Linked DNA regions of Homo sapiens: region 1 is linked to region 2. Evidence: fine-mapped expression QTL. A gene starts in region 2. The other region holds a variant in brackets. All regions are shown on one strand. Distances are from middle to middle.

The links. PIP is the estimated chance that this variant, and not a neighbour inherited with it, causes the effect.
Region 1: its variant is fine-mapped to the expression of FGF11 in whole blood (TOPMed, PIP 0.92).

The regions. Positions count from the first base shown.
Region 1 is chr17:7,764,482-7,772,481 of GRCh38, reverse strand. It overlaps DNAH2 (dynein axonemal heavy chain 2), which reads right to left. Exons shown (of 86, transcript NM_020877.5): 21 at 6,917-7,091; 22 at 6,001-6,164; 23 at 4,421-4,582; 24 at 4,215-4,318; 25 at 2,074-2,230; 26 at 1,843-1,925; 27 at 1,549-1,729; 28 at 1,014-1,152. Among named protein-coding and RNA genes, the nearest start is that of DNAH2, 51 kb to the right of the region's middle. The variant A/C (reference allele first, on the strand shown) is at 3,438.
Region 2 is chr17:7,434,494-7,443,007 of GRCh38, reverse strand. It overlaps FGF11 (fibroblast growth factor 11), which reads right to left and starts at 3,496. Exons shown (of 5, transcript NM_004112.4): 1 at 3,195-3,496; 2 at 1,427-1,537; 3 at 1,129-1,232; 4 at 216-414. The coding sequence starts at 3,387. TMEM102 (transmembrane protein 102) reads right to left here and starts at 7,573. Exons shown (of 3, transcript NM_178518.3): 1 at 7,312-7,573; 2 at 6,923-7,155; 3 at 5,329-6,814. The coding sequence starts at 7,136. The coding sequence ends at 5,502. RefSeq lists silencers at 2,275-2,384, 3,295-3,394, 4,673-4,772, 5,744-6,023 and enhancers at 3,153-3,686, 3,940-4,848, 4,863-4,962, 5,759-6,668, 7,720-7,889.

The DNA of each region.
Region 1 (8,000 bases), 330 kb before region 2:
GACAAGATGGATTTGTTCTGTGCATTCAACAAAGGGATCATTGTTTTTTTGGCTTTGCTTATAAATTGTTACGGAATATAATTCTGTCAATTATTTCAAATAGTATCAGTTGTTGTCATTCAACTTTGCATACCATAACTTTTCATGTTTATCTTTTATCAGAATAATTAAAATTATTTTTATTGATGTGTATACTGAAGGCTCTTGGGAAAATGAAGCACTGTTAAGACTAGCCCTAGGTAAAATAAAGAGGTCCTCTGCACCCCCACCAGAATTCTTCTGCACAGGATGCCCATTCTAGGTGCCCGCTGTCAAACCTGACTCCCTGATTGTCTACCCCAGTCTCCCCCAGTCGACCAGGCCTCACTATGTGTTCATCTTGCCGTGTGTTCATCCCTTTCTTCCCCATACCCTACCCCATCCCATGGCTGAAGGCTAGTTAATCTGCTAAAAGAAAGTCAACGTAGGCTGGGCTCAGTGTCCCACACCTGTAATCCCAGAACTTTGGGAGGCTGAGGGAGGTGAATCACCTGAGGTCAAGAGTTCAAGGCAGCCTGGCCAACTTGGTGAAACGCCATCTCTACTAAAAATAAAAAAATTAGCCAGAGGTAGTGGCACACGCTTGTATTCCCAGCTACTTGGGAGGCTGAAGCAGGAGAATCATTTGAACCCGGGAGGCAGAGATTGCAGTGAGCCGAGATCGCACCACTGCACTCCAGCCTGGGCAATGTGCAAAACTCTGTCTCAAAAAAAAAATTTTTTTTAATAAATAAATAAACTCATCTGACTGATTCCATATCCCATGCTCTTAACCACTACATTATTATACTCCACTCAAATATTTGTTGAGTTTAATTTACAGAATTATGATCTAATGCTTAGAAGAGGTGATGGAGATGGGAAATGTTAGGAGAGCTGGGGGCATCAGTCTTTTTAATAAATGAAGCACGCAACCATGACCAAGCAGAGTGCCTGCCGAGGCTGTGTCAGGGCAGGAGCCCTGGAGCTCTGACCTGGGTGATGGGTGCTCCGGAGAGCATTGTTGTCCTTGTTCATCCTGTCCATGATGGCTTTCCAGTTGCTGTTGACCTGGTCAAATAAGGTCGATTCATTGGGCAGCTGCTTGCGGATGTCTTCTCCTAGGAAGATATTCTGAGGGGGCCAAAAGTTGGGGTGAGAGGCCACTTCTTACACACTCTCCACCCTCTGCTCCCTGTTCCCAGATTGTGGGTGACAGTTGGGTAGAAGATACAGAGTGCTAGAAGTCAAAGGCCAAGATGCCCAAGTTCTACAAGGAAAGCTGGAGGTAGGGGGCCAGCTACCTGGGTCTAAGAAGAAAAATGGAAGAAAAATCTGAGAAGAACAAAAACTTGTTACGGAGGGAATCTAAGGTGAGAGGTAATAACTAAGAATCAGACAGCTGGGTCCTAGATGAAGAGTGACTTTAAAGGTAGGAGAATGAGGCTGATAACAGGGCAAAATCTAGGTCTTAAGAAAAAGAAGGAGTAAGAGCAGGAAGCAGGAAGAGCTCAGGCGCTGAGTCCTGACCTCTAAGTACATCCACTGACGCTGCACTGTGAGAATCATCTCAATAACCTCCAAAATGAGGGAGAGGCAGCGTTCCCAGTGGTCCACATCCTTCTCAAAGGCCTTGACAAAGCGTGATGCCTTCATGGTAGACAGAGCTACCTGGTTATCTTCCAGTGCCTGGAATACTTCTTCTGTACCTCTGAGACACAAGGGGTCAAAATCATAGTTCATCCCCACCTGCCCAACCTTGGTCCCACTCTGCAGCCTGGGTCACACAGCCCTCCATTCTCCTAGAGCCCCAGCTCCCCTGACCTGAGCCGATGATGGCCCTTATCCTTGTAGGGTACTATGTCGAGCTGAGTCACATCCCAGGTCTTGGCAATGTTTTGTAAAGCCTGTGGAGAGAAATTGGGGGACACAGCAGTCAGGTATCTCTTCACTAAGGGGAACAGGAGCTGAGAGGCGCCATCAGATGATGAACAGCTGGAGCCTGTGCTCCAGGAGGCGCAGGAGGTGTGGGAGCATGGGAGGGGACTGTCGTACCACTTCTATAGCCAGCTCTTTAGTTGCTGAAGCAGAGATCTCCCCAATTTTCTCCACATGCTGATCCATCCCAAGCTCCACAATCTGCTCCAAGGTGAAGCTTTCAGATTCCTGATCAAACTCCCGCTGGATCTCATCCCGGACCTGGTCCCAGTGCCTGCAGCCAGGAACAGGAGGGTGTGAGGTCAGGAGAGTTACCATCACTCCATTGCTGTCTCCCACTGGGACACTATGATTCTGCATAGTTACCAATTCATGATTCAACTCATTTTGCTAAACAGGCTCGAAGATGCAATCTTAGGCACCAGGGGAATACGAAGATTGAGGTGAAACCCTCCAGGAGTGGATTCTCTGGAGAGGAAGTTAAGGCAGGTGTGCCCACAAAACACACAATGAATCACCGCAGGTTTACTCTAGAACTGTACTGAGTAAAGGCCTTACATGAAACATCTCATATCATTCTCACGGCTACTCTATAAATTAGGAATTATTATTATTCCATTTACAGATGAGAAAACTGAGGCTTAGAGAGGTTAAATAATGTAAGCAAATAAAGTGGTTAGGTTATACATAACCGTATAACACTTAATGGTTTGGCATTGCCAAAAACGTTATACTGGAAGAAAGACAAAGAAGTAAAATTATTTTCTCTTAAATGGATAGATCATGATTGAAACACCATTTATAAAAATTACTTTATTTTTATAAATCTATCCCCAATGGTTTGAGATACATCCTCTGCCATATAATAAATTCCAGATGAATTAAAAGAGTTAAACCTGAGAAACACAAAGCATTAGAGGAAAGAATGAAGAGGATGTATTTGTAACTTTGGGATAGGAAAGGTCTTCCTAAACAAGGCACAAAGGCAAAAACCATACAGAAAGAAAGTTATACTTCTGGCTACCTCAAAATAAAATCTTTTGTATAACAAAAGACATAAGGCGGGACGGGCACGGTGGCTCATGCCTGTAATCCCAGCACTTTGGGAGGCCAAGGCGAGCGGATCACTTGAGGCCAGGAGTTCAAGACCATCTTGGGCAACATGGCAAAACCCCATCTCTACTAAAAATACAAAAATTAGCAGAGCATGGTGGCAGGTGCCTGTAATCCCAGCTACTTGGGAGGCTGAGGCACAAGAATTGCTTGAACCCGCGAGGTGAAGGTTACAGTGAGCCGAGATCACAGCACTGCACCCCAGCCAGGGCAACAGAGTGAGACTTTGTCTCCCCCACAAAAAAAGGAAAAAAAAAGACATAAGACTTAGTCATGATAGACAACTCCCTTTCAGAGAGAGGGAGGCCCCAGGGCAGGGGTCAGAGAACAAGAAGCCAGCAAGGCTGGATGACCCGAGACAGTGCAAG[A/C]AGCAGAGGACAGTGGCAGGCTTGGTGTCTGCGCCACATGTTCGCTGAGCACTATTTGCAATAGCTAAGATGTGGAATCACCCTAAGTGTCCATCAAGCGATGAATGGAGGATGAAAATGTGGTGTATATATACAAAGAAATACTCTTCAGCCTCAGGAAAGAAGAAAATCCTGTCATTTGCAACAACATGGAAGAACCTGGAGGACATTATGCTAAGCGAAATAAGCCAGGCGAAGAAAGACAAACACCGCATGATCGCACTCATATGTCATATGTAAAGTCTGAACAGGTTGAACTCACAGAAGCAGAGTCGAGTGCTGGTTACCAGGGGCTGGGGGTGGTAGGTGGAAAGTTCGGGAGGTGTTGGTCAAAGGACACAAAATTTCAGTTAGACAAGAGGGATGATCTCCTGTACATCACGGCAACAATGGTTAATAACAATCTATTGTATACTTGAAAATCACTGAGAGTAGCTTTTCAGTACTCTCACTACAAAAAATAGGTATGTGAGGTAATGCATATGATAATTAGCTCAATTTAGCCATTCTACAATGTGTACATATTTCAAAACATTATGCTGTACACCAAAGTGTATGCAATTTTCATGCGTCCATCAAAATTAAATGTTAAAAAGAGGAAAGAGAAAAAGACATACATTTGTGGACAGAGGGGAAGAGAGGGCTGTGAACACTGCGGAGAGGAGAATGGGAGGGACCAAGTGGTGGCGCAGGCCAGCGGGGCAGAGTGGACACCCCGGAGCAGAGGAGAAGCCTCACCTCTCTCTAAGGGCAGGGTTCCGCAGGTCTGAGATGAGAGGCATGGTCCTCTTGAACTGCTCTATTTTTGAGCGAGTGGTTTCAATAATTTCCCAGTTTCGGTCCTGAGCAAAAGTTGGGGGCATGAGAAGACCCGACGACCTCCCTGGGAACAGACCCAGATCCTCCACCAGCTTCTCTTCCGCCTCCCCGCCGTTTCTCCCCACCTTATACTCTTTGGCTAATTTTGTGAGGCGACGAAACAGCCCGTGGGCCGTGGTCTCCATGGTTTCCGTCTGCAGGATCAGGAACCGGCCAGTCTTCCACTCATTCCAGTTCTCCTCCCAGTCTCGTGCGATCTCCCAGATTTGCTGGAGGGCATCGAGCTCCTACAGGGCAGAAAGGCGCGTTGCATGAAGTGGCACCTGCCCTCTTCCTCCCTGACGGACGCCCAGGCCCTTCGCTGCTCTCGCTCTGTGAAGCTTCCCCTCTAGATAATACAGCGGCCTCCTCAGTCCACATATTTTTCTCCACTCTGTTGCCTTAAGAGCTTATCAAGGAACAAGCACATGAAAAAATCCTCAATGTCATGAGTCATTAGGGAAATGCAAATCAAAACCTCAGTGGGATGCCACTTCACACCCGCTAGGATGGCTAGAACCAAAAAAAAAAAAAAAAAGGTAAATAAGTGTTGGCACGGAGATATGGAGAAATAGGGAGACTTGTACACTGCTAGTGGGAATGTGAAACGGTGCAGCTGCTGTGGAAAATGGCTTGGCAGCTCCTCAAAAAGTTAAACATAGAGTTTCCATATGATCTAGCAATTCCACCCCTAGGCTTACACTCACAAGAATAGGGAACAGGTGTTCAGACAAATACAAGTACACGCGTGTTCATGGCAGCACTACTCCCTTTAGCTAAAAGGTGGAAACAACCCAAATGTCCATCAACTGGTGAATGGTAAACAAAATGTGGTAAACTCATGCGATATTCAAATATGAATATTCAGCCATTTAAAAAAGTACTGATCCATGCCACACCATGGATGAACCTTGAAGACATTATGCTAAGCGAAAGAAGCCAGATTAAAAAGGCCACGTATTATCATACAAATGGTTCCATTTGTATGAAGTGTCCAGAATAGGGGAATCATACACATGGAAAACAGGCTCATAACAGACTGGGGCGGGGGACGGGGGACTGGGGCGGGGGACGGGGGATGCACGTGACTGCTAATGGGCAGAGTTTCCTTTAGGGTAATAAAAATGTTTGGGAATTAGATAGATGTGGTATGAATTACTAAACGTCACGAATTGTTTACTTCAAAATGGTTAATTTTGGCAGGGCGTGGTGGCTCACACCTGTAATCCTAGCACTTTGGGAGGTCGAGCCAGGTGGATCACCTGAGGTCAGGAGTTCGAGACCAGTCTGGACAATATGGTGAAACCCCATCTCTATACTAAAAATATAAAAATTAGCCATGCATAGTGGTGGATGCTTGTAATCCCAGCTACTCGGGAGTGTGAGGCATGAGAATCGCTTGAACCCGGGAGGCAGAGGTTATAGTGAGCCGAGATTGTGCCACTGCACTCCAGCCTGGGTGAGAGAGCAAGACTCTATCTCAAAAAAAAAAAAAAAAAAAAAAAAAGGATTAATTTTGTTGTATGAATTTTACCTCAACTGAAACAAACAAAAGCTCCTTGTGAGCTCCTCTCCCTTCCCACTGCCTTTGTGGGCGCTAAGGACCCATTCTCCTGTCCCTGCCCCTTATCGACAGTGACCACAGGGTCCTTGCTCAGCACACCACCTTCTCCAGGTTCTGAAGGTCCTTGGAGGGTGGCTGCTCGATCTTGAAGATGCCCAGGTTGGCTCGGAGACTATTTTCCTCTTCCCGCATGGCCATCAGCATGGCCCGCACTTGTGTAATCTGGTCTAAGGCAGACATGTATCCCACGTTGCTGGTGAAATGGCCTGTGGAGGATTCAGGATGAAGCTCAGCTTCCCGCTCACGTCTGGCAAGGACAGCCATGGCTCTCCTATCTCTTTGTGGGCAAATCTCACCTCTCTCCTCACGTGAGAGAGGGAAGGGAAGGAGAGTAAGAGGGAACGCGTTGAAAGAATAACGGTTAATCTTAGCAAAAACTCCTAAATGTGGCTTGAGAGTCAGGAACAGATGGAATATGGAAGTCGGGATAAGAAAAGTAGAAATGCGGGCCGGGCGCGGTGGCTCACACCTGTAATTCCAGTACTTTGGGAGGCCGAGGCAGGCAGATCACAAGGTCAAGAGATCAAGACCATCCTCGCCAACATGGTAAAACCCTGTCTGTACTAAAAATACAAAAATTAGCCGGGTGTGGTGGCATGTGCCTGTAGTCCCAGCTACTCGGGGAGGCTGAGGCAGGAGAATCGTTTGAACCTGGGAGGCGGAGGTTGCAGTGAGCTGAGATCGAGCCACTGCACTCCAGCCTGGTGACAGAGCGAGATTCCATCTCAAAAAAAAAAAGAAAAAAGAAAAGTAGAAATGCTGTGAGCTGCGCCGCTGTCTACCCAAAACGAGAGCCACTGAGTGTCCTCCTCCTTTGCTCCTGAGTGGAGGCTCTTCCCCCACCCCAGCACCGACCCTCCTCCTCCCCTCCCAGTTCTCGCCTTCCCAGGACCTGGGCTTGGAAGGCGGGGTCTCTAAACAAAGGCTAAAGAAGCGGGAGAGGTGGATCAAGGAGTACCTTTGAATTCGAAATCTTCCAGAAGTGTATGTGCTTTCTTCTTGAAGTCATCTGCCGAGTGGATCAGGCCTGTCTTGAATTTCTCCTTGTGTTTCTTCAGCATTTGCTTACTGTCCAGCAGAGTTTGTTGGAAGACAACCCACTCCCCGTTGAGACTGTCCAGCATCTCCAGGACCTGGGGGAGTCAGAGAGTGGAGGATGACCAGGAGCAGGAGGTCTGCCCTCTCATGCGTGGAGGATGACCAGGAGCAGGAGGTCTGCCCTCTCATGAGTGGAGGATGACCAGGAGCAGGAGGTCTGCCCTCTCATGAGTGGAGGATGACCAGGAGCAGGAGGTCTGCCCTCTCATGCGTGGAGGATGACCAGGAGCAGGAGGTCTGCCCTCTCATGAAAGTTTTTAAGGACTCTTTTCTGATCCTCCAGACCAGAGTCTGGGGACGAGTTTTGCACATGTGACAAGGGCTAAAAAAATCAAGGTGTGAGTTTGCCAGGCCTAAAAGAAACCCTGGCCGGGTGTGGTGGCTCACGCCTGTGATCCCAGCACTTTGGGAGGCCAAGGTGGGAGGATCACTTGAGGTGCCTGTAGTCCCAGCTACTCAGGAGGCTGAGGTGGGAGGATCGCTTGAGCCCAGGAAGTTGAGGCTGCAGTGAGCCATGATTGCACCACTGCACTCCAGCCTGGGTAATGGATGGAGGCCCTGTCTCAAAAAAAAAAAAAAAAAAAATCCAAAAGCTGTATATCTGAGAATGAGGCCAAAACCAAAAAAAAAAAAAAAAAAAAAAGTAAATACAGTAAGTAAATCCAGCTGGGTGCGGTGGCTCACACCTGTAATCCCAGCACTTTGGGAGGCCGAGGTCAGCAGATTGCTTGAGTTCAGGAGTTTAAGACCAGCCTGGGCAACAAAATGAGACCCCCATCCCTACAAAAAATACAAAAATCAGCAAGGCGTGGTGGCGTGTGCCTGTGTTCCCAGCTACTTGGGAGGCTGAAGTAGGAGAATCACTTGAGCCTGGGAGGCAGAGGTTGCAGTAGGCCAAGATCGTGCCACTGCACTCCAGCCTGGGTGACAGAGCCAGACTCTGT
Region 2 (8,514 bases):
GCTCCAAAAGGGCTCCCTTCCCGTACATTCACCCTCCAAGAACCCCAACCCCACAGGAGGACCGCACCCAAACCCCCAAAGGGCAAAGCCTTCCTGGCTTGATCTGTCACAAAGGGTCCTCTTATCACTTGTAGCCTGAGCTGTCTGCCCCTAAATGTCCATATCAAGGTCAATACCCTCTCCTGTGGCCCACATTTTCTTGAGTCTATACCCACCCTCCAGGAGCTTGGGCAGAAAGTGGGCAGCTGCCTTGGTCTTCTTAACTCGGTTTCCCTTCATGACCTGGCCCTCCTTGTCCAGGCCGAGGTACCAGGCCCGGCCAGAACGACGCTGGCGGTAGAGAGCAGAGGCGTACAGGACGTAGTAATTCTCAAAGACACACTCCTTAAAGCGACACTCAGCTGTGAAATGCGGCTAAGGAGACAAAGACCCAGAAAGGCGCACAAAGACAGAGAGATAAAAAGACACATCACTGGGCAGAAAGGAGCTCATGGAAAGCACAAATCCTTTTTGGGGGAGGGGGAGGACAACTTCTGAGTCCATGTAGGACCTGGGAGCAAAGGGAGGACAAGGAAGAGGGCTGAGGGCTAAGAACTAGGCTCTGGGCCAAGCACAGTGGCTCATGCCTATAATCCCAACACTTTGGGAGGCCGAGGCGGGTGGATCACCTGAGGTCAGGAGTTCCAGACCAGCCTGGCCAACATAGCAAGACCCTGTCACTATTTAAAAAAAAAAAAAAGAACTAGACTTTTAGGGGTCTTGCAATAAGATTCCTTCTCTCCACTGTACTCCCAGTCTCTCACTATCCCCTATCCTGGATGACTCTAGGGAAGTGAGTAATGACAAAATCTGGAGGAGGTGGGATAAGAAGTAGGGGCCCTAAAAGGCAGAAAGAGTTGGACATTCAAAGAACCTGGGGCTGTTTTGGGGGTGTGCAAGGAGTGGGGACTGGAGAGACCCTAGAGGAGCTGGTCTGGAATGGGCAGCGATGACAGGCCATCAGCAAAGCTGGAGGGAGGAGTCCCGGGCAAAATGTCTGTAGTTGAGGAAGGTTGTCATTCCCTCAAGGGACAAATTGAGGAAGGGGAGTCCCCAGTATTTCCCGGCCACTCAGCCTCATTGTCTCACCGAACTGTAGAGCAGTCCCTCAGCATTCATGGCCATGTAGTGACCCAGCTTGGCGCTCTGGATGGTGACCACACGGAGGCCCACAGGGATCAGGTTGAAGTGGGCTGCAGGTGGAGAGAGGGAGCATCAATACCCAGGCCTCTGACCCTCACCTGAGCTCCCCTCATCCCAGCTCCACTTTTTCCCTTAGAGGTCAGGAAGACGGATCAATGGCAACAGAAGCTGAAGAGGGAATAGGATTGTCATCTCCTGTCCCCATTCTCCCCCTTCCCACCCTGCAGCCAGCTTCCCCTCTCACTGAAGGAGCTGGTATCCTCTGGGGTGCCCTGGATGCTTCCGTCGGGATTCGCCTGGAGGTAGAAACCCTGGCGGCAGAACAGTTTGGTGACGATGCCTTTGAGCTGAGGCTCTGGAGAGAGAGACATTCATCTTTGAAAATGACATCTCCGTTCCCAGAAACATTCCTACACTTGGCAGGATTAGAGGGAAGAAAGGAGAATGAAAGGAAGGAAGAGGGTCCCAGGGCCCCAGCTCTCTTATCCTCCAAGCACGCTCTCTCCCACCTCTCTTTCACTCCTGGGAAAGCTGGTGTGGGTCCCTTCTGTTTCCTATAACCAGGAGCTTTCAGTGTAATTTATTGAAATTTATTTAAATGGCTTAATTCCTACCCTACAGCTCAACCAGAAGGGGGAAGGAGTGGGGGAGGAGGGAGGGGAGAGATATATCAAAAGGCAGGGACAGAGGGAGACCAGCAGGGGTACTGAAGGGGCAGCGTGTTTGCGAAGGTGGGGGATCTTGGCAGCAGCAAATTGACCACAGGGTAGGGGCTCTCCCTCAGGAGTGGGGGTGGGACTGGGCCTGACGCTGACTCAGCACCTGCTGCGGCTGCCGCTAGCTTGGCGAGAGCCTTGCCTTGGCCCAGCGCCGGCCTGTCTGACACTGACCCATCTGTCTGTCTGTCTGTCTGTCTGTCAGTCCGCTGGCTCCCGGGGGCCCAGTTCTCCCTGAGGCTCAGCCTCTCCCCTTCGGCCAGGTAACTCGCCTGGGGTAAGGGGGACCTTACCAAGGATATGGGGGGTGGGAGCTGAGGAGATGGAGAGGCAGGCTGAGTCACGTGGGGGCCCGGTCCTACTCAGAGGGTGGGCTGCGGATTGTACCACTATGGGCAGCCGGTGGCGCGGGGAGGAGGGCGCGAGGTGGCTACCCTTAGGGGAGCTGGGAGCGGGCGGGAGCAGGGCCAGAGGGACTCCCTGACTGTCGTACATGGACGGGGACCAATTCTAACTCTCACAACTCTCCTCCCCCATCGCTTGCTCTCTGCCGACTTCCCTGTCCCCCCTTGTAGGTGGTACGACCCCCGAGTCGGCGCCCATCTCTAGCCGTGAACTGTGTCTGAGTTCCTGCCAGCGTAGGGTCCCCTGAGCCTACGGGACCCGATTTCGGAGTGGCGCGGGGGTTATGGGAGGGGTGCCCAGCTCCGTTCTTGAAGCGCAGGTCACAGGAGGAGGGCGCATAGAGGGCTGGCTGGCGAGGTAGCTGCAAGGACACCCGAGGGAGAGCTGGGGAGATTGGCTCGGAGCCAGCAGAGCTCGACCAGGAGGAACCGAGCCCAGGCGTGGAGGAGCGGGAGAACCGGGGCAGGCGGGGGCTGGGGGGGGGCGTGCGGCTGGAGCTGCAGAAATCCTTGGGGTGACCCAGGCATCTGGAAACCCCCGGGCCCCTCCGCTCCAGATTGAAAGAATCGCGAGAACCGGCACGTAGGCGGAGGACGATGGGGGTGGGGACTGCTGTGTTGGGAAGGGGGGACGAGCAGGAACTACGAGGCTTTCGGGGCGCCAGGCAGCCCCTCAAGCCTTCCCCTTGACCTCGAAAATAAGGAGACTCCGGGTTATGGACAAAAGAGAAGGGAAACTGAGGCACAGTCTGGCAGGGACTTTGTCGTCCTGGCCCACCCCCTTCCACTTTCGGGGAGCCCCTCAGCCGGGCCCTATTCTTCAGAGTCCCTGGCCTCAATCTCCCAGGCAGAGAAACCTCTGGCCGGGAGACCCCGCCCCAGCCGCACTCACCCGGGCCGCGGTCCGGCCGCGCGGGCCGCCCCCCGCACAGTCGCACCTTGGACAGCAGGATGAGGAGCTGCTTCTGGCAAAGGGACTTGGTGCCGCGGGGACACACGCGCCGCTGCGCCGACACCGGCCGGCTGCCCCCGGGCTCGCGGACCTCCCGCTTCTGCCGGATCAGGCTACTGGCCAGCGCCGCCATAGCGCCCCGGGAGGAGACACCCCCAAACCGGCAGGCGCCCGGAGCGCGCTGGGCTCCCCCAGAGGAGCCCGCTCACTAGGGCATGCTCTTGACGCTCAGGCCCCGACTCGCTGCCCCACCCACAGGACCTGAGGATAAGCCCCAGACCCCCCCCCTCACGTACCCCCCTCCACAGCAGCCAGTTACCACCCGTGGGCCCAGTGCTGGCTCCACCAGATCCAGCAGCCTATGTACTCCTCAGTGGATCCCACCCTCGAGTTTTGCCTCCTATTGAAAACGTCCCCTTTCCCTCCTCTCCAGTGTCTGTCCTCACTTCACCTATCCCAAAGCCAAGACCCACTAAATTTCCAAGACGTGGTTTAAATATCTTCAGGCACCTTTCCACTGTATTTTGGGGCACACTCCTGCCAAATCCACTCTTGTAATCTACAGGGTGTGGGACTTTAGCTTTGGGAATATTCGCTCATCCCACCCCTACTGGGGCACTGCCAATGTCAGGAAGGAACCCAACCTTGGTGTTTTTTCCTTTGCTACACTCTAAATGGAGGGGATCCCCCACTTTTTTCACTGAAATCCCCCCAAAATATGTCTCAGAATATCCAGGTTGCCCAGGTTCAGTAAGACAGGGCTCCCAGACCCTCTGGCTGGATAATACCTTTTTCACCAAGTCCCCCCCATGTCTAGTAGCATAGAATTCTAGCGGCCAAGACCCTTTCTTCACCTTCACACCCTCCGCTCCTTTTGAAGTCACCTCCAAATCCACCCTTCCTAGTGGATACACCAGGTAGTTGACTGGAGGGCCTTCCGCCACCTCAAAATGAGGAGCATCCGTGTTTGTTTTTGTTTTTGTTTTTTTCTCCCCTGGCTGCCCCTTAAATTTTCTTGGGGACAGCTGGTGCTGTTTAGATCCCACGCCCTCCAATCTAACCAGCCCCCCAAGAGAGGAGTGCACCCACGTTGTCACCAGTCCCCAGATGTGAACAGGCCCCCTACAAGTCAGAGCGGATCACAGCTTCCTGCTACAGGGCTTCCTCGTCCTCCCCGGGATTGCCTATAGCACCCCCTCTTCCTTTTCCCGACGCCCCTCAACCTGTCCTGTCCTGTTGATCCGGCGACGGGTGGCGCTGGCTTCGGCTCCAGGCTCCTCCCTCCCTGTCCCCCGCAAACGGAGCTTCCCCCCACGCCCGGCTAGGCGTCCCGGACCCTCGGGAAGGAGTGAGGGTGTCTCTGCAGAGCTCCCCGGTCCGGCGAAGTCAGAGCACTGGGCCGGTGGCTGGACCAGGCAGAGCGGCGGCAGCGGCAGCGGCTGTGGGAAGCTGAGGCGGCGGCGGCGGCGGCGACAGCAGTTCCCCCTCCTCGGAGAGCCGGCCCGGGGGCGGGGCAGGGGGCGGAGACGCTGGGAAATAGGAGGGTGAAGCCGGGCAGGAGGAACCCCGGGGTTCCTTGGAGGTAGAGAGTGCGGACTGTGTCTTACAAGCAGGCAAAGCCGAGGCAAGGCCGCACGTCTCAGCCTTCAGAGGAGGAGGGACAGGAAGGCCTCCTGAACGCACCCCTGGGTAGGAAGGAGAGGTTGGGCCTAAGGGAGATGGAATGGCGGACGCTGGGAGAAGGGAGAGAGACCCTACTGGCCGGGATGTTAGTGAAGAAAGAACCGCACGAGTAAAGTGGGGGAAGAACTGGAGAGATGGAGGATGGGGGGTGGTGAGATCCAGCCTTGGGCGAAATCCGGCCTCCTTCATATCTCTGCCGTTGTGTGAGCCAAATTGATCAGACCCTGGTCTCCATAACTCCTTTTCGCGTTTGGTCAGCAAATATGTTTCTCCCATTTCTATTGGCCCTTAAGAGAAATGACCAAAAGAACTGGGGACAGACGGTTTCTGGAAGCTGCCCCTGGGCGGAGTGCTGGCCACAGATGTGGAGAATAGCGAGGCTGGAATGGGGCAACTTGTGCGGGGGCAGGCGGGTGGGCGTAGAGGAGGAACCAACAGGGAGGTCTTCCAGAAGGGGGGCTTCAGGCCCAGGGCACACAGTCAGTCCCCCTGGCGAGGGGCGAGCAGGGCCCCCCACGTCCCGCTCGCCCACAGAGGCACTTTCCACTGGTAGGAACAGCGTCTTTAATGGGCCCCGCCCCCCACGCCCGCCAAACCGCCCCCCTTGCGGGCCACTTTGGCCTCCTCCACCGCGGCACGGAGGGCCCGGGCCGGGTCCCCGCGGAGCCGGGCCAATTCTCCGAGCAGCGCAGCGGAGTCGTCCCCCGTACGGAGCTGTCGGCCGTTCAGAAAATAGTGAGGCAACGTCCCGGCCTCGAGCACTCGGCCGAGCTCGTCTAGCAGCCCGAGGCAGCAGGCGCCCGCATTTTCTGGCCGCGCCAGGTAGAGCGCAGGCAGCCGCTCGCACGCCCAGTACAGCAGCGTCCGCAGGAGGTAGGGCGCCGCCGCCCGGGTCCCGGCCACCAGCGGGCGCAGTAGCGCCTGGGCCGCCGCGTGCGCCTGCAGCAGCGGCGCTGGTATGCGCGCTTTGAGCGCCAGCTCCTGGCGGGCAAAACAGAGCTGCCAGGCGGAGGCGCACGGCCGCTCGGTGCCGCCACCGGGCACCAGGTAGAAGGAAGCCGACTCAGAGGCCAGCGGACCGGCCCACGAGTGGCTCCGAGCCCCCTCGGGCCAGCCCGCCACGGACACCACTGGGATCAGGTCGAAGAGCAGGAGGCGGCGAGGGGGCTCAGGGGTAGCCAGGAGGACGGTGGTGAAACCCGCGTGGCGAGCTGCGTGCACCAGACGCGGAGCACCCGGGACAGGGATCAGAGACTCGGCGACCGCCGCCAGCGTAGCAAAGAACCAGGCAGCCACCTGGGCGGAACATAATGTGGGCCACGCTTCCCGAGCCTCCGACGGCTTTGGGACTGGGCTTTCGACGGCTGCCTTGGTGACGTCACTACTCATTGTTTTCAAAGGTGCGGTAGAGCCAAGGTCGACGACGTCATGCTGAGGCGACTCGGACGCTGAAACGTCACTAGGCGATTTTTCCAAAGACACCGGCGCCTCGTGCTCAGTGACGTAGCTGTGCGGCTGGTCTACAGAGCTTTGCCAGTCCTTGGAACTTTCTTCGCTCTCCGTTCGGTGGATCGAATCACGTGCTCCTGGGACTGGGGGTCCTAAGCAATCCTGCCACATCTCCCGGATGGGGGTTCCGCACACCATCTCTGGGAGGCAGACCTGTGCGTAACAGGATTCCAGGTCCAGTTGCAGTTCAGTGCCGTCCAGTGAAAACATGGGCACTAGGAGTGTGAAGCCGGCATCGTAGTGAGGTCCCCGGGCGTAGGGACCCAGGGGTGCATGCCCCAGATCCAGGGAGCCCTCGCGAATCCCACCACGAAGCAGCAAGAGCTCTGCCTGGGGAGGAAAGCGAGGGTCCCGGCGGTGAACTAGACCTAAAAAAAGGGAACGGATCGTGAGGGCGTCGCCCAAAGCCGGGGCGGGGGCGGGGGCGTGGTGAGGCTGAGAGCTGTGAGTTCCCAAAGGCAAGTAGGGTTACTTACCAAGCAAAGAGAAGACAAAGTCCTTGGCCCGGAGGAGATCGGCTCCCGGCTTGGGCCCGTCACTCCAGCTCTCCTGCACACCCAGCTCCTGGATCAGCTGGGTCAATTCCTGCAGCTGCGCCCCGGAGCAGAAGTCGATGTCCGTGAGCGGCCGAGCTGGGGCCGGGGGCGGCGGGCCCCACCAGGGGGCACTCCCCCAGACTGCGGAAGCCATGCGGTTCTATCGCTTTGGGCTGCGGAAAACACGGAAGGGAGGTGGCTTTGCTGCCACAAAGTCGTCCCCGTTCTTCCCTCTTCCTGAGGCCGAGCGAGTGCCCCAGACACAACCTACAAATGGGTCTGTAGATGATGGGTTCTAAATTTAGTCCTCAAAATGAACAAATAAATACCTCTTCTATCCTGGCCCTTTTCTCATAGGCAGGTCCCCGCCCCCATGAACTGGTTCACCGGACTCAGCAGGTAAAAAGTAACTGTTGGCTCCTCCTACGGAATGCAGTAGCCAGCCTCCGCTGCCGCCCCTTGTCTACCTCCCTTTACCTCTTTTTTGGAAGAGGCTTATTAGTCTGCGGCTTCCCCCTTATGGGAAGCAGTAAGGGTGGGGAGCAGAAATAGATTCAACAGGTTACTTCTTCCTGATGCCCACGTGGCCACGCCCCTACATTTTCAGCCACGCCCCTTTCTGGAGGCTGTCGAGGTGGTTTCCGCCGGGTCGGGTCGCCAGTCAGAGCTCAATCACTCTTTTGGCCCTGCTGAAATCCCGCGTTATCCTGGGAGTTGTAGTTTCCCGCTCTACTAGGGCGTGGTAGCCACGCCCCCACATCCTTTCCTGTTCCGCTGAAGTAGTGCCTGATGGAAGTTGTAGTTCCTCTGGAGACAGATTATTCTGTGTCTTTTCACACCCATATCAACCCCACTCAAACATTCCTTGGGGTTTGAGAGGGGTAATAGGATGGCTCTGAGTCGCAAAAAATAATGAGGGATGGGCCGGGCGCGGTGGCTCCCGCCTGTAACCCCAGCACTTTGGGAGACTGAGGCGGGTGAATCACCTGAGGTCAGGAGTTCAAGGCCAGCCTGGCCAACATTGCGAAACCCTGTCTCTACTAAAAATACAAAAATTAGCCGGGCGTGGTGGCAGACGCCTGTAATCCCAGCTACTTAGGAGGCTGAGGCAGGAGAATCACTTGAACCTAGGAGGGAAAGGGTGCAGTGAGCTGAGATTGTGCCATTGCACTCCAGCCTGGGTGATAAGAGCGAAACTCCACCCTAGGGCCTGGGGAGAGATAGGGACCCCTGCCTGGGTGGGGTGGGGGGGGTGCATCTTGGAATCCCAAAAGTGGTAGTGTTAGGCAGGAGCACACAGATGGTGACCCAGAAATGGACGTTTGACTCATAGGAGAGACATACATGTTAGTGATGCCCACCTCAGCTCACTGCTACCTGAGTCGTGGCAGGGAAAACACTTTGGGATCTCAAATTTTTGTTTTGTTTTGTTTTGTTTTTGAGACTGAGTCTCGCACTGTTGCCCAGACTGGAGTGCTGTGGCGCAATCTCCGCTCACTGCAACCTCCACCTCCCGGGTTCAAGCAGTTCTC